Regions from separate parts of the Homo sapiens genome. Here all the other regions are linked to region 3. Evidence: fine-mapped expression QTL. A gene starts in region 3. Each other region holds a variant in brackets. All regions are shown on one strand. Distances are from middle to middle.

What was found. PIP is the estimated chance that this variant, and not a neighbour inherited with it, causes the effect.
Region 1: its variant is the best candidate, but not a certain one, in a credible set for the expression of NCF1 in spleen (GTEx, PIP 0.66).
Region 2: its variant is the best candidate, but not a certain one, in a credible set for the expression of NCF1 in whole blood (INTERVAL, PIP 0.80).
Region 4: its variant is the best candidate, but not a certain one, in a credible set for the expression of NCF1 in whole blood (TOPMed, PIP 0.58).
Region 5: its variant is the best candidate, but not a certain one, in a credible set for the expression of NCF1 in whole blood (INTERVAL, PIP 0.52).

Annotation. Positions count from the first base shown.
Region 1 is chr7:75,129,984-75,135,086 of GRCh38, reverse strand. It overlaps GTF2IRD2B (GTF2I repeat domain containing 2B), which reads right to left. Exons shown (of 16, transcript NM_001003795.3): 9 at 1,875-1,952; 10 at 30-86. Among named protein-coding and RNA genes, the nearest start is that of GTF2IRD2B, 40 kb to the right of the region's middle. The variant A/G (reference allele first, on the strand shown) is at 3,125.
Region 2 is chr7:75,459,785-75,464,887 of GRCh38, reverse strand. All of the region lies in intron 3 of POM121C (POM121 transmembrane nucleoporin C), which reads left to right. Among named protein-coding and RNA genes, the nearest start is that of POM121C, 24 kb to the left of the region's middle. The variant C/G (reference allele first, on the strand shown) is at 2,753.
Region 3 is chr7:74,771,449-74,776,535 of GRCh38, reverse strand. NCF1 (neutrophil cytosolic factor 1) reads right to left here and starts at 2,525. Exons shown (of 11, transcript NM_000265.7): 1 at 2,433-2,525. The coding sequence starts at 2,504. RefSeq lists an enhancer at 3,699-4,244.
Region 4 is chr7:75,054,076-75,059,178 of GRCh38, reverse strand. RCC1L (RCC1 like) reads left to right here. Exons shown (of 11, transcript NM_030798.5): 7 at 410-591; 8 at 1,563-1,650; 9 at 3,105-3,278. Among named protein-coding and RNA genes, the nearest start is that of RCC1L, 17 kb to the left of the region's middle. The variant G/A (reference allele first, on the strand shown) is at 2,254.
Region 5 is chr7:74,605,832-74,610,934 of GRCh38, reverse strand. No RefSeq gene overlaps it. Among named protein-coding and RNA genes, the nearest start is that of MIR10525, 12 kb to the right of the region's middle. RefSeq lists a silencer at 4,028-4,437. The variant T/C (reference allele first, on the strand shown) is at 2,510.

The DNA.
Region 1 (5,103 bases), 360 kb before region 3:
AGAGAGAAAAAATGCTGCATTTTTCTAACCTTCCATTGGTAATTCCATTTCTATTACTTCATTGCTTGTGGAAGAAGGGTGGCTTCCTGAAAGAAAAATAAATAATATATAACAAAGGAGAAATACAAAAATGTAAAAAGAAATCACTGAATACAATGCAAACAAGTCAATACCCACGCAGGAATACACCTGAAATACTTCTACCCCTTGAAATAAAACTGGCTGCGCGCGGTAACTCACGCCTGTAATCTCAGCACTCTGGGAGGTGGAGGCGGGCAGATCACCTGAGGTCAGGAGTTCGAGACCAGCCTGGCCAACATGGTGAGACCCCTTCTCTACAAAAAAATACAAAAATCAACCGAGTGTGGTGGCACATGCCTGTAATCTCAGCTATTCTTGAGGCCGAGCCAGGAGAATCACTTGAACCTGGGAGGTGAAGGTTGCAGTGAGCCATGATCACGCCACTGCATTCCAGCCTGGGCGACAGAGCGAGACTCTGTCTAAAAAAAAACAAACAAAAAAAACATAAACCAATTAATTTCTCTGAGTTTCTCACATTCTGGATTTTATTGACTACATCCTTGTGGTGATGTTTTCATATGTGCCTGTATTCCATGCATCTCCTAAAAACTGCTGGTTAGATCTAAAGGCTGGATCAGACTTAGGTCTGATTGTTTTGTTTTGTTTTGTTGTTGTTTTGAGAGAGAGTTTCACTCCAGCACCCAGGCTGGAGTGCAGTGGTGTGATCACAGCTCGCTGCAGCCTTGACCTCCCAGACTCAAGCGATCTTCCCACCTCAGCCTCCCAAGTAGCTGGGGCTACAGGTGTGTGCCACCATGCCCGGCTACTTTTTGTATTTTTTGTAGAGACGGCGTCTCACCATGTTGCCCAGGCTGGTTTTGAACTCCTGGGCTCAAGTCATACACCTGCCTTGGCCTCCCAAAGTGCTGGGATTACAGGTATGAGACACTACACCTGGCCAGGTTTGATTTTTTTTTTTTTTTTTGGAAGAATCCTTGACAAAGGTGGTGTGGTGTACTTCCTACTGGATACCGTCAGGAGACCAGTGACCAGTCAGTTCAGGAACTGTCAGTCAGGTCTGCCCATGATAAAGTCCCCATCAGACTTTTATAAAATGGTTTTAATGACCACTGACAATTATTGCCAAGATGCACTGCTTCATTAGGTGGTGCAAAATCATGACAGTCGTGACAATTTATGACTTCTTTTTAAAAGCCTTATGGGTCAGGTGTGGCGGCTCATGCCTGTAATCCCAGCATTTTGGGAGGCCAAGGTGAGTGGATCACCTGAGGTCAGGAGTTCGAGACCAGCCTGGCCAACATGGCGAAACCCCGTCTCTACTAATAATACAAAAAATTAGCCAGGCGTGGTGGCACACGCCTGTAATCCCACCTCCTTGGGAGGCTGAGGCACAAGAATCATTTGAACCCAGGAGGCAGAGTTTGCAGTAAGTGGAAATAGTGCCACTGAACTCCAGCTTGGGCAACAGAGTGAGATTCTGTCTCAAAAAAAAAAAAAGAGTATGTGGATTTAGCCCAGGCATGGTGGCTCACGCCTATAATCTCAGCACTTCTGGAGGCCAAGGCTGGAGGACTACTTAAGCCCAGGAGTTAGAGAACAGCTTGGGCAACAAGGTGAGACCTCATCTCTGTAAAAAAACAAACAAAAGAGTACATGGATTTAGGCTAAATAGAATCTATTTTATAACTGTAGGATTATTTACTCTAAATGGCAGCATGCTTGATCCTAGGTAAACACACATGGGTGCTCGCCAGTTTTTCAGACAGGTAGTAATTAAAATCTTCCATCCCAAATAACTTTTGGGGAAGAAAATTATTATCAAACAGTATTACCTTGCATATTATATTGATAGTAATTAGGATCTTCTGATTCTTTCTTGACTGAGACAGCTTCTGCTTTCAGTGAAATGCCTTGGAATGTAATGGAAATGATAAAATTGTATGTTAGGTTAAGTTTGCCAACAAAGAAATACGACTAGCTAATATAAGTTGATTAATACAGCAATGTTACAATCAGCAAAAGAACTTGTAGCTCACTCACTATGAACAAATTTGACCTCTTGATACAAAAATAGAAATACTATAAATTAAAATAATATACATATAGAAAACATACATTTGTGTATTTATGTATGTTTATATAAAAATAATATCAATTGTAAAATCAATAGAAAAGGAAAGAAGGAAGGAGGGGACCGGGCACGGTGACTCATGCCTCCAATACCAGTACTTTGGAAGGCTGAGGCGGGCAGATCACTTGAGGTCAGGAGTTTGAGACCAACCTGGCTAACATGGTGAAACCCTGTCTCTACTAAAACTACAAAAATTAGCTGGGAGTGGTGGCGGACGCCTGTAGCCAGCCACATGGGAGGCTGAGGCAGGAGAATTGCTTGAACCCAGGAGGTGGAGGTTGCAGTGAGCTGAGATCGAGCCACTGCACTCCAGCTGGTTGACAAAGCGAGACTCCATCTCAAAAAAAAAAAAAAAAAAAAAAAAAGAAGGAAGGAGAGGAGGATGAAGGAAGGCATCGTGAAGGCGGGAGAGCTTAGTTCTGATTCTAGTCCTAGTTTTGGGAGATTTTCCCCTTCAGGGTGGCTGAATATCCACGTGCATTTACATGAAATGCTGTGAAGATTCTTCTGTCATGAAGCCTGAACTGACATATATAACCATTTTTTTTTTTTTTTGAGACAGAGTCTCACTCTGTTGCCCAGGCTGGAGTGCAGTGGCATGATCTCGGCTCACTGCAACATCCACCTCCCAGGTTCAAGTGACCCTCCTGCCTCAGCCTCCCAAGTGGCCCACGCCACCATGCCTGGCTAATTTTTGTATTTTCAGTAAAGACGGGGTTTCACCATGTAGGCCGGGCTGGTCTCAAACTCCTGACCTCAGGTGATCCACCCACCCACCTTGGTCTCTCAAAGTGCTGGGATTACAGGCATAAGCCACCGTGCCCGGCTAGGCACTTATAATCTTAACTTACTCACTATAATGGAATGGATTTCAAAACCTGGAGAAGCTATATCAGTACAACCTAACGCCTTTATCAGAGAAGGGTGCGGTTGGCTGCAAAAATTAGCTCA[A/G]GACCTCTCCCATCCCAGGATGTACATCCCTTTGCAATGTGACTATCCCATGCTTCTTTTCTAGAAGTAAAGTCTGTTTCTCTGCCATTTTGTTATTATTTTTTGAGACAGAGTCTTGCTCTGTTGCCCAGTGGAGTGCAGTGGCATGATCATGGCTCACTGCAACCTCTGTCTCCTGGGCTCAAGCGATCCTCCTGTCTCAGCCTCCTGAGTAGCTGACTATAGGCATGCATCACCACGCCTGCCTAATTTTTGTATTTTTTGTAGACATGAGGTTTCACCATGTTACTCAGGCTGGTCTCGAACTCCTGGACTCAAGCAATTTGCCTGCCTTGGCCTCCCAAAATGTTGGGATTACAGCTGTAAACCACGGCGCCAGGCCATTCTCTGCCCTTTAAATCTGGCCCTGGCTGTGTGACTTGCTTTGGTCAATGGGACATCAGCCGATGGGATGCAAAGAGAGGCTTGAGAAGAGCTTGATCATCTGTGCCTGCTGCTTCTAGAACCTCATCACCATGGGAGCCAGCCTAGGGTGCCTCCAAAGGGTATGAGGCCACAAGGAGAGAGACCCTGATGTCCCAGCCGGGGCCTCAGACACACAGCCATCCGGCCCTTGCTGAGCCAGTCCAGCCAACACACAGAAATGTAGGAAAGACTAAATATTCCATTCCATTCCATTGGAGCCCTTCCCCTTCTCTTTCCAGCCCAGGCTGGAGTGCAATGGCATGATCTTGGCTCACTGCAGCCTCCACCTCCCAGGTTCAAGTGATTCTCCTGCCTCAGCCTCCCAAGTAGCTGGGACTACAGATGCGCACCACTACGCCTGGCTAATTTTTGTATGTTTAGTGGAGACAAGGTTTCACCACGTTGGCCAGGCTGGTCTCCAACTCCTGACCTCAGGTGATCCGCCTGCCTTGGCCTCCCAAAGTGCTGGGATTGCAGGCGTGAGCCACCACACCCAGCCTCATTTCAGGGGTACTTTTAAATACAGCAATAGATGACTGATACTAAAATGTACATGTAATTTAACCATGAATGTTTGTAATAGCAAAACAAAAAAACTGTGGCATAGCTTGGGGTTCATTGTTTAACATAATTTATAAGTTCTGAGGGGTCGTCTGAAAACCTTTAACAGCTCTGTTGGTATAAGGACAGTGAAGCTAAACATTTAAAAATCTGATTTTCAGCTGGGGACAGTGGCTCAGACCTGTAATCCCAGCACTTTGGGAGGCTAAGGTAGGCAGATCATTTAAGGTCAGGAGTTCGAGACTAGCCTGAACAACAGGGTGAAACCCCGTCTCTATTAAAAATACAAAAACCAGCCAGGTGTGGTGGTGGGCACCTGTAATCCCAGCTACTCAGAAGGCTGAAGCAGGAGAATCACTTGAACCCGGGGGGCGGAAGTTGCAGTGAGCTGAGATCACACCACTGTACTCCAGTCTGGGCGACAGCGAGACTCTGTCTCAAGAAAAGAAAAAAAAATTGGCCTGGTGCGGTGGCTCATGTCTGTAATCCTAGCACTTTGGGAGGCCGAGGAGGGTGGATTACCTGAGTTCAGGAGTTTGAGACCAGCCTGGGCAACACGGTGAAACCCTGCCTCTACTAAAATACAAAAAAATTAGCCAGGTGTGACGGCGTGCACCTATGATTCCAGCTACTCAGGAGGCTGAGACAGGAGAATCACTTGAACCTGGGAGGCAGAGGTTGCAGTGAGCTGAGGTCGTGCCACTGCACTCCAGCCTGGCAAGACAAGAAAGAAAGAAAGGAAGGAAGGAAGGAGAGAAAGAAAGAAAGAAGGAAAGAAAGAAAGAAGGAAAGAAAGAAAGAAAGAAAGAAAGAAAGAAAGAAAGAAAGAAAGAAAGAAAGAAAGAGAAAATAAATTAAAACCAGGGAGATGGTTTGTTTTTGTAGCAAATGCTACACACATATCACAAGAAATAAGGACCAATTGAGGACCAGCTCTCAGGAGCCTGCTGGCA
Region 2 (5,103 bases), 690 kb before region 3:
TATACTTTTTTTTTTTTTTTTTTTTTTTTTTGAGATGGAGTTTCGTTCTTGTCACCCAGACTGGAGTGCAATGGTGCGATCTTGGCTCACTGCAACCTCTGTCTCCTGGGTTCAAGCAATTCTCCTGTCTCAGCCTCTCGAGTAGCTGGGATTACAGGTGCCCGCCACCATGCCTGGCTAATTTTTGTATACTTTTCAGCTTCAGACTTTGATTCCTTTCAATAATTTCTATTTTTTTCCTTTCTTTTTTTCTCTAAGCTTTAGTTTGTCTATAATAAATTCTTTTATTGAGACAGGGTCTCACTCTGTCACCCAGGCTGGAGTGCAGTGGTGCAATCTTGGCTCACTGCAGCCTTGACTTCTCATGCTCAGGCAATTCTCCCACCTCAGCCTCCCAAGTGGCTGGGACTACAGGCGCATGCCACCACACTTGGCTGATTGTTTGCATTTTTTGTAGAGAGGGGGTTTCGCCATGTTGCTGAGGCTGGTCTTCAAATCCTGGCCCCAGGTGATCTGCCCGCCTCAGCCTCCCAAAGTGCTGGAATTACAGGCATGAGCCACTGCCCCTCACCTGTCTATAATATTTTCTATTTCTTTATTGATGTTCTGCATTTGTTGAGACATTGTTCTCCTTGTATCCTTTAACTCTTTATTCATCGTTTCTTTTAGCTTTTTGAGCAGATTTCAGACAGCTGATTTAAAGTCTTTGTCTAGTACTTTCAATGTCTGTGCTTCCTTAAAGACAATTTGTTTCTTTTGTGAATGGGCTGTACTCTCTTAATGTCACTGCATGGTTTGTAATTTTTTTTTGAAAATTGGAGTCAGGCACAGTGACTCACACCTCTAATCCCTTTTCCCCAAAAAAAGAAAAAGTAAAATTAAAAAGAAAAAAAGAGTCCAGGCGTGGTGCCTCACGCCTGTAATCCCAGCACTTTTGGGAGGCCGAGGTGGGCAGATTGCCTGAGGTCAGAAGTTCAGGACCAGTCTGGCCAACATGGTGAAATCCCATCTCTACTAAAAATCCAAAAACAGTCAGACATGGTAGCATGCCCCTATAATCCCAGCTACTCAGGAGGTTGAGGCAGGGGAATTGCTTGAACCAGGGAGGTGGAGGTTGCAGTGAGCCGAGATCGCACCACTGCCCTCCAGTCTGGATGACAGAGCTAAGACTCCGTCTCAAAAAAGGAAATCAGACATTTTGAGTATTATAATGGGGTAACTGGAAATTATTTTATCCTCCCCACCACCCCTGGGTTTGCTTTTGCTGTGGGCTGTAGCTGTTTGTTCAGTGACTTTCTAAACATTTTTGCAAAGTGTGTCTTCTTTTACATGTGCGGTCTCTGAAAGTCTCTCTGCCGTTAGCTTGTGTTCAACTAGTGTTTTAACAGAGATTTCCTTGAATGCCAGATGCCAAAGGTAAAAAAAAAAAAAAAAAAAAGAAAAACCCAGCTCTTTCCATCTTTGTGGATTGCCACTGTGCTGGGGCACTGGAGCAGTCCTTCAGGGCTTAGCCAGTCTGTGTACAACTTTTTATTTATTTTTTTGAGGTGGAGTCTTGCCCTGTCGCCTAGGCTGAAGTACAATGGCACGATCTTGGCTCACTGCAGCCTCTGCCTCCCAGGTTCAAGTGATTCTCTGCCTGAGCATCCTGAGTAGCAGGGATTACAGGCTTGTGTCACCACACCTGGCTAATTTTCCACCACACCCGGCTTACTTTTGTATTTTTTAGTAGAGACGGGGTTTCACTATGTTGGCCAGGCTGGTCTCAAACTCCTGGCCTCAAGTGATCTACCCGCCTCAGCCTCCCAAAGTGCTGGGATTACAGGCGTGAGCCACCGCACCCGGCCCAGTCTGTGTACAGCTTTGCCCTAGGCTTTACTCCCTGCCTGCAGGGAGGATGGAGAGGAGCCACAGATGAAAGCTCAGCATCCTTTCTCAGGTCTATTCTGAGAATGTGCTCTGCACTCAGCATGTGCATGGCTACTGAAATTCCATAGTACACAAGGGCAGGTCTGAATTTCAGTACCCAAATTTCCCATAGAAACTCTCCACAGCTTCTTCTCCCATGCTGTCAGCACACCTATAGTTTGCCTCAACTGTAATCTTTTGCCTAGGCATCAGCAGGGTATGCATTTGATTTACAGTGTTTTCAAGGAATACCCTCTGTGTAGCCACTTTTCTGCCCTGTGTGAGTTCTGGGTTAGGTGAAACAAAGGCAGCTGCCCTGTATCAGTTCTTTTGGCAGCCCTCAGGCAGCTGAGAACGGGAAAACAAAATGCTTTGAGAATAAGGTCTGCTCTGCTGCCTTCAATACCAGAAACCACACTGGGAATGTGGGCTGCCATCTTCAAGGTTCCCACTGAACCATGGAAGGTTGTGGGGCAAGGGCAAGTAAAATAACCCAGTTTTCCTACCATTTTGAAGTTGCTTTTTTCTTGATTCAGTGTTCATTTGGAGTATTAGTCAGTTTTCACACTGCTGGAAAGAACTGCCTGAGCCTGGGTAATTTATAAAGAAAGGAGGTTTAATTGACTCACAGTTCCACTTGGCTGGGGAGGCCTCAGGAGACTTACAATCATGGTGGAAAGCTAACAAGAAGCAAGTACCCTCTTCACTGGCTGGCAGGAGAGAGGGGAGAGTGCAGGGGAAACTGCCACTTAAAAACCATCAGATCTCGTGAGAACTCCCTCACTATCACGAGAACAGCATAGGGCAAACCGCGCCCGTGATCCAGTCACCTTCCACCAGGTCC[C/G]TCCTTGACCCCTGGGGATTACAATTCAGGATGAGATGTGCTTGGGGACAAAGAGCCACATCAGATGATCTGGTTATTGTAAACCTTTGATTATTTTTCTACAGTTCTCATGAAGTTGATTCAGACAGTTTTGCTTGGTTTATCAATGTTTCTGTGGGGGGATGGGGACTTGGAGATACCTACTCTGCCATTTTTGCTGATACCAGTCAACATGTTATATTTTCACTTTTACATAATTCAATATGTTTTCCAGTTTCCCTTGCGACTCACTCTTTGACCCATGAATTATTTAGAAGTGTATTTAATTTCCATGTGTTTAGAGATTTTCTGGTTTCTTTTTAAAATTGATTTAGTTTAATTATTTTACAGTCACAGAACGTATTTTGTATGATTTCAGTTATTTTACATTTCTTAAGATTTGTTTTGGCCGGGCATGGTGGCTCACACCTGTAATCCCATCACTTTGGGAGGCCGAGGCAGGTAGATCACCTGAGGTCAGGAGTTTGAGACCAGCCTGGCCAACATGGCAAAACCCTGTCTGAAAAACACAAAAATTAGCCAGGCGTGGTGGTGCATGCCTGTAATCCCAGCTACTTGGAAGCTGAGGCAGGAAAATTGCTTGAACCCAGGAGGCGGAGGTTGCAGTAAGCCGATTGCACCTCTGCACTCCAGCCTGGGCGACAGAAAGAGACTCCATCTCAGAAAAACATTTGTTTTATGACCCAGGTTCTGGTAAATCTTGCTGAATCTTCCATGGGCAAAGAATGTGTACCCTGCTGTTAGTGTGTGAAGTCTCCTGTAAATGTCAGTTAGGTTCCATTGGTCGATGATGGTGTTCAGTTATTGTATTGTTTGCTGATTTTCTTTGCTGTTTTTTTCCTGTGAATGGTCTAAGCTTCCTATTTCCTGTTTCTTTGTATATTTTGTGGTTTTTTGTTGAGAACGTTGCATTTTAAGTGTTACAATGTAATGACCCTCAAAATGTGATTCTCTCAGTCACCTGGGATTGCTGGGTTTTGCTTGTTGAGGTCTGAAGCTCCCCTTTTGTTACTTTTCCAAACTATTTTTGCAAAGTGTTTCTTCCTTGTGCTTGTGTGGTCACTGAAATTTGTTTCATTATCTCTGCAGTCAGCCAGCCACCTAACATGGATTTCCTTAAATAGATGGCTTTAAATGGGGTGGGGCAGAGGAGGATTTTGTCTCTTTGATAAAATCTTCTGAAGGATGTCCCTGGGGAAGCCACTGTTGCTGAGAGGGCCAAATAAACCAAGGCAAGCATCCGGGCTGGTCCTCAGAGACCCATTGGACCCACCAAGGTGCAGAACCCATGGTTTTGGAGGACAGAGTTCCGCTGCTCGCCCTGGCATCAGCCAGCTGCTTCGGGAACTCAGGCTCAGGAATGGGGGAGTGTTGGCTGGTTGGCACATGCCACTCACTCGTGAAGATCAGCAGCCTCTCTCTTCATTGTTTAAGTATGTCTCTGGTTGTTAGGAGTTCCTGGTCATGTTTCAGAATTCCAAAAGAGCTGATTCCAATCACTCTTTCTAGCTCAGTGGTTGCTTTAGTGAAGGGACTGATCTCTACACTACAGCTTCCTACTCTGCCATCTTATGTGACTATTGATATTTATTTATTTATTGAGACAGAGTCTTACTCTGTTGGCTGGAGTGCAGTGGTGCAGTCACGGCCCACTGCAGCCTTGACCTCCTGGGCTTGAGTGATTCTCTCACCTCAGCCTCCCGAGTAGCTGGGACTATAGGTATGTGCCACCATGCCTGGCTAATCTTTTTTTTTCTTATTCTTTTTGTGGAGATGGGGTCTCGCTATCATGCCCAGGCTGGTCTCAAACTCCTGAGCTCAAGTGATTCCCTCCGCCTCGGCCCCCTAATGTGCTGGGATTATAGGCATAAGCTACCACACTTGGCCATGAGTCATTTTTAAAAAAACAGATTCCAACAACCTTTTTGATTGCTGTGTTTAGAAGATTTATATTTAATTTTGGACGGGTTTTTATTATCTATTTTCTACTTGTTCCCTCTGGGTTTTTTTATACCTGTTTCCCTTTTCTTGCCTTTTTATGGGGTACTTAGACATTTCTTAGTATGCCATTTAACTTCATATGCCATGCTAAATCAATTCAGTATGCCATTTAGTATATATTTTTGTATAGGATTTTATAGGTGGCTGTAGAGATTATATTATACATACTTATGATCATTGGCTAGTATCAACCTTTTGCCAATTCAAGTGGAATGTAGAAACTCTACTGCTTTCTAGGCCCCTCTGCCCTTCTTTATGGTATTGTTGTCTTGAATATCACCTCTACATTCATTGAGAACCACTGAGATAAT
Region 3 (5,087 bases):
CAGCTACTTGGGAGGCTGGGACAGGATAATTGCTTGAACCCGGGAGGCGGAGGCTGCAGTGAGCTGAGGTTGTGCCACTGCACTCCAGCCTGGGTGACAGAGCGAGACTCCCTCTCAAAAAAATTAAAAAGAAGACAGAATTGCATCTAAGATCCACTGCCCTGGATACACAAACTGAATCTAATGAAGATAAACCCAAACTAAGGGACATTCTACAAGGTAACTGGTCTGCTCTCTGCAAAACATCAAAGTTGCAAAAGACAAAGACTGATTAAGACCGATCCAGAATCCGCTGGCACGGTGGCTCACGCCTGTAATCCCAGCACTTTGGGAGGTCGAGGCGGGCAGATCACCTGACGTCAGGAGTTCGAGATCAGCCTGGCTAACATGGTGAAACCCTGTCTCTACTAAAAATACAAAAAGTAGCCGGGCATGGTGGCGCATGCCTGTAATCCCAGCTACTCGGGAGGCTGAGGCACGAGAATTGCTTGAACCTGGGAGGCGGAGGATGCAGTGAGTGGAGATTGTGCCATTGCACTCCAGCCTGGGTGACAGAGTAAGACTCCATCTCATAAAAAAAAAAAAAAGACTGATCCAGAATCAATATGGCAAAACCCTGTCTCTACCAAAAAATGCGAGCTGGGCATGGTGGCGCGCACCTGTATTCCCAGCTACTCAGGAGGCTGAGGCAGGAGAATCTCTTGAACCCAGGAGGCAGAGGTTGCAATGAGCCGAGATTGCACCACTGCACTCCAGTCTGGCGACAGAGTGAGATTCCGTGTCCAAAAAAAGAAAAAGAAAAAGAAAAAAGACTGATCCAGATTAAAGAAGGTTAAAGGCTATGACATTGATCCTTGACTGGATCCTAGACCTGAAAAAAGTTTTCACTGCAGAGGACAAGCAGGATAATCGGGGAAACCTCAGTAAAGTCTGTGGGTGGATAATGGTGTTTTGTCCATGTTAATTTCCTGATTTTGACACGTGTGTTGTGATTATGTAAGAGAATGCCTTGATTTTAAGAAATGCCCAACAACTAGTATTTAGAGGTAAAGAAACACGTCTTCAACTCACTCTCAAATAATTCAGAAAATATCCCCAGAAAGAGAGGTGTGGATGAAGGTGAGTGAAAGACTATTGGAGTGACTGGTACCGTTTTGACACCCAGTAGCCTTTCTGTAAATTTGAAATTTCAAAACTGAAAGTTACAAAGAAAAGGAGAAAAGTGACTAGGCACGGTAGCTCACGCTTGTAATCCTAGCACTGTGGGAGGCTGAGACCAGAGGGTTGCTTAAGCCGAGGAGTTCAAGATTAGCCTGGACAACATAGTGAAACCTCATCTCCACAAAAATTTTAAAAACTAGCCAGGCATGGTGGTGTGCGCCTGTAGCCCCAGCTACTCAAGGGGCTGAGGCAGGAGGATCACTTGGGCCTGGGAGGTCGAGGCTGCAGTGAACTATGATCGCACCACTGCACTCCAGACCTCATTTCAAAAAAACAGGCCAGGCACGGTGGCTCATGCCTGTAATCCCAGCACTTTGGGAGGCCCAGGTGGGTGGATCACTTGAGGTCAGGAGTTTGAGACCAGTCTGGCCAACATGGTGAAACCCTGTCTCTACTAAAAATACAAAAATTAGCCAGGCGTGGTGGTGGGCACCTGTAATCCCAACTACTCTGGAGGCTGAGGCAGGAGAACCAGTTGAACCTGGAAGGCGGAGGTTGCAGTGAGCTGAGATCGTGCCACTGCACTCTGGCCTGGGCAACAGATCAAGACTCTGTCTCAAAAAACAAAAAAATAACAAAAAAGAGAAAGGTCTTGGCACATAGGACTAAATGTTCCATACAAGCTTCAATTTCCTAAATGTAGTTCCTCCCTGGCCTTCCTATGGGATTAGGGGACCCAGTGGACTTGTGTGTCTGAGCAGGCATTTGTCCAGCCTCCTTGGGGACAGATGGGAGGACTCTATTGGCCCCTGTCATGGTGTCACCCTACTGGAGAGGATAAGACTCTAACTGACACTACAGGCAGCTGGGGAGAGAGAGAGCTTTAGTTTCCAGGCCTCCCTCTTGGGAGGGCCACTCTCTGATAGCTGGGCTAGTCAGGGAAGGCTTCCTGGAGGAGTGGGCCTCGGACCTGAGAGAGCGCTGGGCTGCCTGGCCATGGCAGGGGAGCAGAAAGAGGACTCCTGGCTAAGGCTGAGGGCCTGGCTGGGGACACAGGCGGGGACAGTAAAGGGCTGGGGCCCAGGGCGGGTCCAAGGGAACTGTCTTCCCAGGGATCAGAGGGGTAGATCCAGGCTCAAAGACCAGGGACCAGGTGCCCAAGACCCTGCCCCGTTAGTCCTCACTGGAGCTGGTTGGCCCTGGGACTGCAAGGGTGGCCGTGCTGTCCCTCCCGTATTCCCCCCACGGGATGCCCTCCACCAGCTACTCACATAGTGCTGGCTGGGTACGAAGCGCTTCTCAAAGCCCAGCAGGGCGATGTGACGGATGAAGGTGTCCCCCATGACTGGGTGGCCTCCAGTGCTCCCTGGCACTTCCAGGCTGCGCCTTAAATGCACTGGAAAGAGGAAGTCGCTTTTGTCGCGGTCGGGACAGGGGGCAGGGAGGGTACAGAAAGGGCTTTGCTTCTTCTTTCAGTTTCTGGGGACTCTTCAGGCTTGCAGGGTGTAAACATGGGCAGACTCATGTTCACACACACCTGCAGGGACAAGGAAAAGGGTTTACACTTGTCCTTCCCGTCGCCTGCACGGGCCCCACGGGTTTTGGGGGTGAATCAAGCTGCTCCTGCCTCAGGGCCTTTGCATTTGCTGCGTCCCCTTGACCATCTTTCCCCCCTTGACCATATTCCTGGTCTTGACCATGTTCCCCCCATTCACCATCTTCCCTCCATAACTCTCCTCCATTTCTCTGCTCAAATGTCACCTCTTCCGAGAAGCCTTCCTTGATAACTTCACATTGCATAGCAAACCTCATACCTTTCTCAGCCTCTTCCTGCCTCCTTTTTCTGCAGAGCACTTATCACTGATGCATCGCAAATTGCATTTAATTTTTCTTTATTATTATTGCTATTGTTATTTGAGACAGGGTCTTGCTTTGTTATCCAGGCTTAAGTGCAGTGGTGGGATCACAGTTCACTGCAGCCTCCAACTCCTGGGCTCCAGCGATCCTCCTGCCTCAGCCTCTGGAGTAGCTGGGACTACGGGTGTGTGCCACCATGCCCGGTTAAATTTTTTTTAATTTTTTTGTACAGACAGGGTCCTGCTATGTTGCCCAGGATGGTCTCAAACTACTGGCCTCTAGTGATCCTCCTGCCTCTGCCTCCCACTTTTTTTTTTTTGAGATGGAGTCTCGCTCTTGTTTCCCAGGCTGGAGTGCAATGGCGCGATCTCGGCTCACCGCAACCTCTGCCTCCTGGGTTCAAGCAATTCTCTTGCGTTAGTCTCCTGAGTAGCTGGGATTACAGGCATGTGCCACCACACCTGGTTAATTTTTTTTTTTTTTAATTAGAGACTGGGTTTCTCCATGTTGGCCAGGCTGGTCTTGAACTCCTGACCTCAGGTAATTCACTCGCCTCGGCCTCCCAAAGTGCTGGGATTCAGGCATGAGCCACCGTGCCTGGCCTGACTTAATTTTTTTAGTCTCCCCTTACCACAATGTGTGTCCCAGGAAAGCTAGGGCATGACCGGGTTATCAGGGGCTCTAGCCCCAGCCCCTCCATCTAGTGCCTGGCACACAGAGGCCATAAATATTTGGATCGTGACTGCAACATTCACTGAGTGAATGAATGAGTGAGTGAATGAATGAATGAGTCAATGAATGAGTGAATGAATGAATGAATGAGTGAATGAACGCGGGCATGGGAGTGTGCATGCAAGCGTTAGATGCTCATCCTTGGGTGTGTGTGGATGAGGGCCAGTGACAGCTGGGACGAAAATGGCACAGACTTTGAGTGAGACTTGAGTTCCAATCCTCAAGTAAGCAAATGGTTCATTGAATTGTTCCTTAGGGCTGACTCAGTTTTCTCCAGAGTGATATTAAGACTGTCAGCTTTGCCAGGAAGGGGATTTGGGACAAAGAGGTGAGGAGGGGGCAGCATGCCCAGGGACAGGCTGAGGCCTCTCTCTCCCACTCCCCCTAGAGCCTGGGAGGCCCAGAGCTTTTGGAGCTCATTCAAGGTCATGAGTTCATGAGTGGCGGGCCTCAGCCCCAGGCAGCCTGCTGCAGCCTGTGCCTCCCAGCAGGCCAGGGCTGCACCAACTCACCCTTGCCTGAGTCCAGGGTCAGCTCATGGTCCGGACCTGATCTCCTGGGGGTGAGGGTTGAGGTCTGGCAGATGAAAGCCAAGACATGCTGGGCGTTAATTTATTTGTTTGAAGCGAAGTTTCGCTCTTGTTGCCCAAGCTGGAGTGCAGTGGCACAATCTCGGCTCACTGCAACCTCTGCCTTCCAGGTTCAAGCGATTCTCCTGCCTCAGCTTCCCAAGTAGCTGGGATTACAGGTGTGCGCCACCACGCCTGGCTAATTTTGTATTTTTAGTAGAGAAGGGGTATCACCCTGTTGGCCAGGCTGGTCTTGAACTCCTGAGCTCAGGAGATCCACCCACCTCAGCCTCCCAAAGTGTTGGGATTACAGGCATGAGCCACTGTGCTTGGCCCTTTTTTTTTTTTTTTTTTTTTTAAAGACAGGGTCTCTATCTGTCACCCAGGCTGGAGTGCAGTTGCCTGGTCATAACTCACTGCAGCCTCCAACTCCTGGGCTCAAGCAGTCCTCCTGCCTTGGCCTCCCCAGTAGGTTGGGACTACAGGCACATGCCACCGCACCTGGCCTGTTCCTGCTTTTATTATCCAGTGCATTTATTATCCAAGAGGTGTAGGGTCCACTCCACCTGCTCTGAAAGATTTGCTTGGCAAGTGCTTCACTTCTTTTTTTCTTTTTTTTTTTTTTGAGACAGAGTCTCTTTCTGTCCCCCAGGCTGGTATGCAGTGGCATGATCTCGGCTCACTGCAACCTTCACCTTCCGGGTACAAGCAATTCTCCTGCCTCAGCCTCCCAAATAGCTGGGATTACAGGCGTGCACCACCATGTCC
Region 4 (5,103 bases), 280 kb before region 3:
ATTCTTGCCAAGGCTGGAGTGCAGTGGTGTGATCTTGGCTTAACTGGAACCTCCACCTCCTAGGTTCAAGTGATTCTTGTGCCTCAGCCTTCTGAGTAGCTGAGATTACAGGCATGTACCATTATGCCCTAATAATTTTTTTGTAATTTTTTTTTTTTTTTTTAAGTAGAGACAGGGTTTCGCCATGTTGACCAGGCTGATCTCGAACTCCTGACCTCAAGTGATCTGCCCATCTCAGCCTCTGAAAGTGGTGGGATTACAGGCGTGAGCCACTGCACCCAGCCCCAGACTGGGATTTCTGAGCTGATACTTGTTAAGTGCTTAAAACTGCACTTGGCATATAGTAAGTCTGCCTATGTGTTTGTTAAAAGAGCGAATAATTAAAAATCTGTATTTTCCACTGTGTTAGGTCTGGGTCACTACAATATCACCAGCTCGCCCACCAAGCTGGGTGGAGACCTGGCGGGAGTGAACGTTATCCAAGTTGCCACCTACGGTGATTGCTGCCTGGCCGTGTCCGCCGACGGAGGACTTTTTGGTTGGGGAAACTCGGAGTACCTGCAGCTGGCCTCTGTCACTGACTCCACACAGGTATGCAGTCGCCGACAGCGTGGTGCTGGGAGGTTTGGAAACATTAAAGTGTTAAGGGGCCGGGTGTGGTGGCTCACACCTGTAATCCCAGCACTTTGGAAGGCCGAGACAGGCAGATGGCTTGAGGTCAGGAGTTCAGGACCAGCCTGGGCAACATGGCAAAACCCCATCTCTACCAAAAAAATACAAAAATTAGCCAGGTGTGGTGGTGCATGCCTGTAATCCCAGGTACTGGGGAGGCTGAGGCATGAGAATTGAATCGCTTGCAGATTGCAGTGAGCTGAGATCGTGCCACCACATTCCAGCCTGGGTGACAGAGCAAGACTCTGTCTCGAAAAAAAAGAGCAAATAGGCTGGGCGTGGTGGCTCACGCCTGTAATCCCAGCGCTTTGGGAGGCCAAGGCAGGCAGATCACCTGAGGTCAGGAGTTCGAGACCAGCCTGGCCAACCTGGTGAAACCCCGTCTCTACTAAAAAAAAATACAAAAATACCACCTCCACCTCCTGGGTACAAGCAATTCTCCTGGCTCAGCCCCCCGAGTAGCTGGGACTACAGGCACTTGCCACCACGCCCAGCTAACTTTTGTATTTTTAATAGAGACAGGGTTTCACCATGTTGGCCAGGCTGGTCTCGAACTCCTGACCTCAAGTGATCCACCTGCCTCCGCCTCCCAGAGTGCTAGGATTACAGGCGTGAGCCACCACACCCGGCCACAAATGTCATTTTATGTTAATTTTGGTTGACATCTGCCTCGTCCACTAGACTAGAACTCTCTGAGGGTGGAAACTGGGCCTCTTTTGCTTCCCATTCTACCCCAGCACCTAGTATGATGCTTGGCATGTGATGTTCAGGAAGTATCTGTGGAGTGAATGAATGAACTAGGACTCAGCTACTCTGTACCTAAGACCAGAACACTTCCCGGTCCTTACTGGCTTGCTTTCCTAACAGTGTGGCTCCTTTCTTTGGTTCAGGTGAATGTGCCCCGCTGCTTACACTTCTCAGGAGTGGGGAAGGTGCGACAGGCTGCATGCGGTGGCACGGGCTGTGCAGTGTTAAACGGTGAGACCTTCTTTCCGGTGGCTCATTGGGAAGCTGTAGGTAGATTACATAGGGAGTGGTCAGTGTCCATTGGATTTGCAGGCCGTAGACCTTAGCCTTAGGAGGGTAACATGGCTGGGCGCGGTGGCTCACATCTGTAATCCCAGCACTTTGGGGAACTGATGCAGGAGGATTGCTTGAGGCCAGGAGTTCCAGACCAGCCTGGACAACATAACGAGACCCTGTCTCTACCAAAAAATGGAGAAATTAGCTGGAAGGCTGGGTGTGGTGGCTCACACCTGTAATCTCAGCACTTTGGGAGGCCAAGGCAGGCAGATCACCTGAGGTCAGGAGTTCAAGACCAGCCTGGCCAACGTGGTGAAACCCTGACTCTACTAAAAATAGAAAAATTAGCCAGACATGGTGGTACATGCTTGTAATCCTAGTACTTGGAAGGCTAAGGTGGGAGGATTGCTTGGACCCAGGAGGCAGAGGTTGTAGTGAGCCGAGATTGCGCCACTGCACTCCAGCCTGGATGACTCTGTCTCAATAGAAAAAGAAAAAATGAAAAATTAGCTGGGCATGGTGGTGCACACCTGTAGTCCCAGCTACTCAGAAGGCTGA[G/A]GCAGAAAGGTCCCTTGAGCCCAGGAGTTCGAGCTGCAGTGAGCTATGATCATGCCACTGCACTGGGCAACACGGTGAGACCCTGTTTCAAAAAAGGAAGGGACTATGGCCATGGGAAGATGGCATTGGATTAGAAGATGGCATTACAGGGTGTGAATGAAGTTCTTAACAAAAAGCGAATAGTCTGCGATTTATCTGTAGATACATGGCCACAGAGCTGAGTCATCCTAGAGCAAACCTCTGGAGTGGAGAGCGAACTACTTCATTCCCCTCCCTTAGCCTGGGCCAGAGAGACTCCAGCTCTGCCTTCTCCAGCCAAAAAATCAAAGGCAGATGGGAGAACAGCCTTCAGCTTTGGATAACGATGAAATATCTGGCACCACTGATGAATATTAAACTTTCTATAACCAAAACATCATTTCTAAGAGTTTTAAGAATCTGGCCAGACATTGTTGATGTGTTTGGCCTTCTGATCAGTGTGAAACACAGAGCTGTCATTAGGGGGAGAAAACATCCTCCAATTCTCTGGTATTCGTATGGGTTTTCTGGATGATTTATACGCTCGTCCCTTCCAGGTTACTAACCCTCAAGATGTGGGAAGTTTGTGTTCTGAGCCAGGAGAGCTGGCGAGACAGACTCCCCCAGCAAGAATTTAAGCAGGGGAGAGAGAATTATTATTCTAAATCTCTGTCTGCATGTTCTTGCCAAGCAAGGAGGAAAAAAACAAAACAAAAAAAAAACAAAAAAAAACCGTGTGGATGTCATAAACCTTGGTGGTGTAGTTTGAGTTTCTGGTGAGGGAGGTTCTTACTTGGATGGACTTACTGACCCTTGTTTTTACTGTAATGTAGGAGAAGGACATGTTTTTGTCTGGGGCTATGGAATTCTTGGGAAAGGTCCAAACCTAGTGGAAAGTGCCGTCCCTGAAATGATTCCACCCACTCTCTTTGGCTTGACGGAGTTCAACCCAGAAATCCAGGTTTCCCGCATCCGATGTGGACTCAGCCACTTTGCTGCACTGACCAGTAAGTTACCAAGCCCGGTGGCCCTGGTGTGAGCCCAGCAGAGGTTCTCTGTCTCCAGTTCAACCCCAAACTGCGGGCAGCTCTCAGGTTCCACCCATCCAACAGAACGGCGCCTTTGTACTGATAACTCAAGCAAGGGCTAAGCCAGAAGTTGTTTGCCTCGAGGTTGTATAATGTCTTGTTTTCCCCCCCTGGAGTTTTAATTTTGGTTCGTTTGGTTTGTGGGTAGGCTAACGTGAACGTGCATTTTCTCAAGAGAGCACCCGTCGGTGGTAGGAAGGGGCATTGCTAGTACGTCGGGTGCTGGAGGAAACCAGCAGAGGCTTGGCGGATCCATGGGTGGGTGATTAGGAAGTGAATGTGTGGGGCTTAATCCCATTCCCTGGCCGAGCCCAGACCCTGATCTGACCCAGGATATGGGATGGCAAAAGGCCGATTTGTCAGACTGTCCCGTGGTTTCACGGAGGTAAATCTACCGATTTCTCCAAAGTGCCGGGGTAGAGAATGATGAAAGGGGAGAGCAAAATGGAGGTTTTTCCCAAAGGCCTGCCAGATTACAAAGCCACAGAATATCCGCTTACCCTGCAGGGTAAGGGTAAGGAATGTGTCCTTTTCTTGGTTACATCTCTTACTCCACCACAGTTACCGTGGGTTCAATTTGCTGCTCTTTAGTTGACTCGAATAGTAAAACTGTCCTGAATTAATTTCATTCTGTGATTCTCAAGTAAATTAGTTATTTCCTTGCAATTAAAAGAATCTTTTCATCTCATGGCAAGTAATTGTTTTCTTTTTAAACATCCAGGCCGGGACAGTCAGTTGGTGTCATCTTTGGTTGAGTTCTCTGGCCTCATTCCCACGTGGGGCCTGTCCCAGATGCTCACCCTCTGTACCAGGGTCCTAACTGCTATTCACTTATTGTCTGAATTCCAGGCTCCAGAGGCCGTCAAACAGGCAGGCCTGGGTTGTTATGGCTGCCAGCTGGAGTTTTATCTGGCTCTAGGCTGAAGCACTGAAGTGGCAGTGGTCATGACTAAGCCAGAGAATTCCTGGCCACTGCCCAGCCAGAGTGGCCACTTGCATTTGCAGCTGAGTGTAGGTCTCATGAATTCTTTTTTTTTGAGTTGGAGTCTCACTCTTGTTGCCCAGGCTGGAGTGCAATGGCGCGATCTTGGCTCACTGCAACCTCCGCCTCCCGAGTTCAAACGATTCTCCTGCCTCAGCCTCCCAAGTAGCTGGGATTACAGGCACACACCACCACGCCCGGCTAATTCAGTGTCATGAATTCTTAAAGCTATTTTGATTTGATAAATAAGAGTCGTATGGACTAATTTTGGGGGAAACAAATATCTACTTTCCAGAAAGTTCTTAAGGCCTCAACTATGGGCAGAGACACATGTTTAGAAATCTGTGTGAAGCATTTGACTAGAGCAGAGGCTTTTCTATTTGCCCTCATGCCATGTAGCCATTTCAGGTCACAGCGAAATGAAATTCCTTTCTGGATTTCTCCCCGAGACTTAACAGGCCTCCTTCTAAGGGTGAGTTACTGCCTGTTGGTAGACAGAGCCTAGCTGTCTTCCTGCCTGTGTGCCTGGCATTTGCAGATAGCCATCTGGGAATTAGAGTTGGTTGGTTTATCCTGTGGTCTGCTAGCATTTTGGGGAGCCAGGCCGAATTGTTCTATTAAACACCTAAGGGCTAGCTGGGTGCAGTGGCTCATGCTTGTAATCCCAGCACTTTGGGAGGCCAAGATGAGAGGATCCCTCAAAGCCCAGGAGTTCGAGACTAGCCTAGGCAACATAGTGAGATCCCTTTTCTACAAAAAATA
Region 5 (5,103 bases), 170 kb after region 3:
CAGTGGCACGATCTCAGCTCACTGCAAGCTCCGCCTCCCGGGTTCCCACCATTCTCCTGCCTCAGCCTCCCGAGTAGCTGGGACTACAGGCGCCTGCCACCACGCCCGGCTAATTTTTTGTATTTTTAGTAGAGACGGGGTTTCACCATGTTAGCCAGGATGGTCTCAATCTCCTGACCTCATGATCTGCCAGCCTTGGCCTCTCAAAGTGCTGGGATTACAGGCGTGAGCCACCGCGCCCGGCCCTCTGTTTTTCTTTTCAAATGTACCTCTGTTACTCTCTTTCAAACACATTAGGGAAACCGAAAGAGAAGCTCTGTCCAGCCCCAAGTTGCGGGGTTCGCCTGGGGCAGTGCTCAGCCGCCTGAGTCAGTCTGGCGGTCTCCTCTGAAGCCAAGCCTGGTGCTTCATCTTTTCTAGTTGTGTAACCCTGGACTCAGCCCTTCATCTTTCTGAACCTCAGATTCTTCATTTGTGAAATGAAGAAATAATATTTACTTTGCAGGGCTGTGAGGATTAACAGAGCACATAAAAGTTCTTGCGTAATGGGCCGGGCATGGTGGCTCATGCCTGTAATCCCAGCACTTTGGGAGGCTGAGGTGGGCGGATCCCTTGAGGTCAGGAGTTCAAGACCAGCCTGGCCAACATGGTGAAACACTGTCTCTACTAAAAATACAAAAATTAGCCGGGCGTGGTGGCGGGTGCCTGTAATCCCAGCTACTCGGGAGGCTGAGGCAGGAGAATCGCTTGAACCTGGGAGGTGGAGGTTGCAGTGAGCTGAGATTGTGCCACTGTACTCCAGCCTGGGTGATAGAGCAAGACACCGTCTCAAAAAATAAATAAATAAATAAATAAATAAATAAATAAATATAGGATTTCTATGGAGTTCCAATTTATGACCAGAAATAGAGAAAGCAAATTCTACTGATGGAGGCACAAGTCATAGTTCCCCTACAGATGGATTCTGGGGCTGAGGTTGGGGGAAGGAGGTTACTGGAATCACTGGAGCAGGAGGATTTAAAGAGTTAAGGCAGGCCGGGCGTGGTGGCTCTTGCCTGTAATCACAGCACTTTGGGAGGCTGAGGCAGGCAGATCACCTGAGGTCAGGAGTTCGAGACCAGCCTGACCAACATGGAGAAACCCCATCTCTACTAAAAAATACAAAATTAGCCGGGCGTGGTGGCACATACCTGTAATCCCAGCTACTCGGGAGGCTGAGGCGGGAGAATCACTTGAACCTGGGAGGTGGAGGTTGCTGTGAGCCAAGATTGCACCATTGCACTCCAGCCTGGGCAACAAGAGTGAAACTCCGTCTCAAAAAAAAAAAAAAAGAGTTAAGGCAGCTGGGTGCAGTGGCATGTGCCTGTAATTCTAGTGCTTTGGGAGGCTGTGGAAGGAGGATCACTTCAGTCTGGGAATTGGAGGCTGCAGTGAGCTAGGAGCGCGCCACTGCACTCCAGCTGGGTGACAGAGTGAGACCCTGTCTCAAAAAAAAAAAAAAAAAAAAAGATTTAAGGGCCCTCTTATTTTCCAGGAGACCGGTGTAGTTTATATTCTTTCACCAACTCGCTCACATTTAGTGAGTACCTTGTATGTCCTGGACGTAGGCGCTAGGATAGAACGGTGGATAAAATGGACACAGTCCTTGACATCATAAAGCATAAAGCAGGCAGAGAAGCAGAAAATAATGACAGAAAAAATAAGTTATTGTAGGCTGGGTGCAGTGGCTCACGCCTGTAATCCCAGCACTTTGGATGGCTGAGACGGGTGGATCACTTGAGGTCAGGAGTTCAAGACCAGCCTGGCCAACATGGTGAAACACTGTCTCTACTAAAAATACAAAAATTAGCCAGGCGTGGTGGCGCAAGCCTGTTATCCCAGCTGCTTAGGGGTCTGACGCAGGAGAATCACTTGACCCTGGGAGACGGAGGTTGCAGTGAGCCAAGATCCCGATACTGCACTCCAGCCTGGGTGACAGAATAGACTCCACCTCAAAAAAAAAAAAAAAAAAAAAAAAAAAAAGAACGAATGATACTTGATATTAATAAAATGATATTTATTTACTTGAGATAGGGTCTTGCTCTGTCGCCCAGGCTGGAGTACAGTGGCACAATTATAGCTCACTGCAGCCTTGAATCCCTGGGCTCAGGTGAGCCTCCCACCTTGGTCTCCTTAGTAGCTGGTACTACAGGTGCCCACCATCATGCCCAGCCATGAGTTTTAGGAAGATGATGAAATTTAAAAATTACAGGGCAGTGGCCAAGTGCAATGGCTCACACCTGTAATCCCAGCATTTTGTGAGTCCCAAGTGAGAGGATCCCTTGAGGCCAGGAGTTTAAGACCAGCCTGGGCAACATAGTGAACTTCTGTCTTTACAATAAGAAAAATTAGCTGGGCATGGTGGCATGTGCCTGAAGTCCCAGCCAGTTGGGAGGCGAGGCGGGGGGATCACTTGAGCCCAGGAGTTCCAGGCTTCAGTGAGCTATGATCGAGCCACTGCATTCCAGCC[T/C]GGGCCACACAAAGAGACCTTGTCTCTTTTTTTTTTTTTTTTGAGATGCAGTATTGCTCTCTCACCCAGGCTGGAGTGCAGTGGCACGATCTCAGCTCACTGCAAGCTCCGCCTCCTGGGTTCACACCATTCTCCTGCCTCAGCCTCCCGAGTAGCTGGGACTACAGGTGCCCGGCTAATTTTTTGTATGTTTTTTAGTAGAGACGGGGTTTTACCATGCTAGCCAGTATGGTCTTGATCTCCTGACCTTGTGATCCACCCACCTCGGCCTCCCAAGGTGCTGGGATTACAGGTGTGAGCCACCGCACCCGGCCTTTTTTTTTTTTTTGAGATGGAGTTTTGCTCTGTTGCCCAGGCTGGCGTGTGCAGCGGTGCGATCTCCACTCACTGCAACCTCCACCTTCTGGTTTCAAGCGATTCTCCTGCCTCAGCCTCCCGAGTAGCTGGGATTACAGGCATCCGTCACCACGCCCAGCTAATTTTTGTATTTTTTAGTAGAGACGGGGTTTCACTATGTTGGCCAGGCTGGTCTTGAACTCTTGACCTCGTGATCCGCCCGCCTCAGCCTCCCAAAGTGCTGGGATTACAGGTGTGAGCCATCTCGACCGGCCGAGACCCTGTCTTTTAGAAAAAAAAAAAGTAATAATTAATAATGAAGATAAATAACGCTTTGGTTCCTTAAAAAGAGGTACCTCGCAGGGCCGTTGGAAGCACCAGCCAGGAGAGCTCAGGACCAACCCTCCCCTGAGTGCACCAAGCCAGGCACCTGGGCGGTGCGGGAGGGTGGCCCGAGGGGAGCAGGTGCCCCGTCTCGTTTTGTGGCCCGTCCCTGCGCCAATTATTGCTTTATTACTGTTTTCAGTCAGATATAATTCCAGCATTTTCTATAATCTTGATCTTTTCATTGATACCAGATTTTTGTACAATGATTTGTATATAAAATGACTGTGTACCCACCAGAATACATTCCCCGGCAATTAGAACGTTTAAGATGCAGCTCCTAACCGTCCTTCATTTATTACTTTTGAAAGTGTTTTGTGATTTTTTTGGGGATGTGTTTACAAATCCAATAACAATTCTCATTTAGAGTTGCAAAACACGAAGCCATTTCGAACCGAGACAGATGGCAGCTAAATGAAGTTTAATTAAAGAATGAGTGCTTTGAATCAAATCACTTTTTAAAAAGTACAGTACACTGAGATTCTGGAGAGGTTGCATAAACAGCATCTGGGCGCTTCTGCGAGGAAAAGAGTCAGTAAGGCTTTCCCATCGGATAAGGGGCTGGGCGGGCGCAGGGTGGGCGAAGGGAAAAGCGGCCCTTTGCACAAGACCTCTGTCCTCTGCCTGGACACACCTCCCAAAGCCCAGGCCTCCAGGGACTGGGGGAAACTCACAGGAGGCAACCTCTTGCTTCAAACGCTTTGGCTTGGAGCAGGGGAAGGGGGTGGGAGAGGGGTCCCCACTTCTGCCCTTTCTTTAAGACATAGGGTCTCGCTGTGTTGCCCAGGCTGGAGTGCAGCGGCTCAATCCTCTGCTTTTAGGGAAGCGGGAGGATACGAGGGTTTGCTGCACCGACCCACTTAATTGCACGCCATCTGCACAGTGAGCCTGAAAGAGAACAGATTGGGAGCTTCGCGGGCCTTTGCGCGGATGAAGGAGGATCGGGTTCCCCGGCCCGCCCTACCCCCGGGCTCTGCGCCCTCTCCATGCACGGGATGGCAGTGCCCGCGGGCACAGTCTCAGCCCCGCCGCTCCCGGCCGGGGCAGGAGCCACTTCCGGCTCTGGCCGCGGATCTGAGCGGTGGAGCGGGGGCGGCGGGTCTAGACGACCGACAGGCGCCAGCGGGCGGTGGCGGGCGGGAGGGGGCGCCAGGTGGGCCGGGCCCGGGGGACGGAACGGTGGGACAGAAGGCTGGGGACCCGACCCCCTGCGAGGCGCCTGGAACGCCGCACCTAGATGCTTGCACTGGGTGCAAGGAAAGCAAAACAGATTTTAAATCCAGAGTCACAGGATCGGGGGTGGGGGATGGGTTACAGGACGTGAGGGTTGAAGGCAAGGTGGCAGCTGCAAGGACTCTTCAGATCATCTTGACTTCATAGGCAGTTTCTGCTTGGAGGTGGTGGCCAGTTGAGGAGGTCACTCCTGCCCCCATCCTGGAGTGGAAAAAGTGGGCCCGGCCCAGGGCAGGGGCTGAGGGTGGAGTGGAGGCGCCTGGTGGCACTGGGAGCCACTAGGAGGTGGGAGGGAGGAAGGTGAGGCTGGCAGCTGACTGGGTGGGGGGTTTGCACCAGCGGAGAGGGGGTGGCTGTGCCAGGCACGTGGTTTCTAGCGTCTTTCCAGGAGGAAGTGTGGTCTGGAAGGCTGGGATGGGGCCTTCCTCCCAGCTCTGGGCATGGATGGGACTGACCCTGAGGACTGGCAGAAGCCCTGGACTAAAGTTTTGACCATTTCCTCAGCTGATTCAGAACTCAGTCCCTCCAAGCCACAGGCCTCATTCTGGGCCCTGGGTGGACGGTTAGAGCCAGATCCTGGGACCACCCTGACCCCTGACTCTCCAGAACCCCTCGTCCACCCGACTGGCTGACCCTCTAGT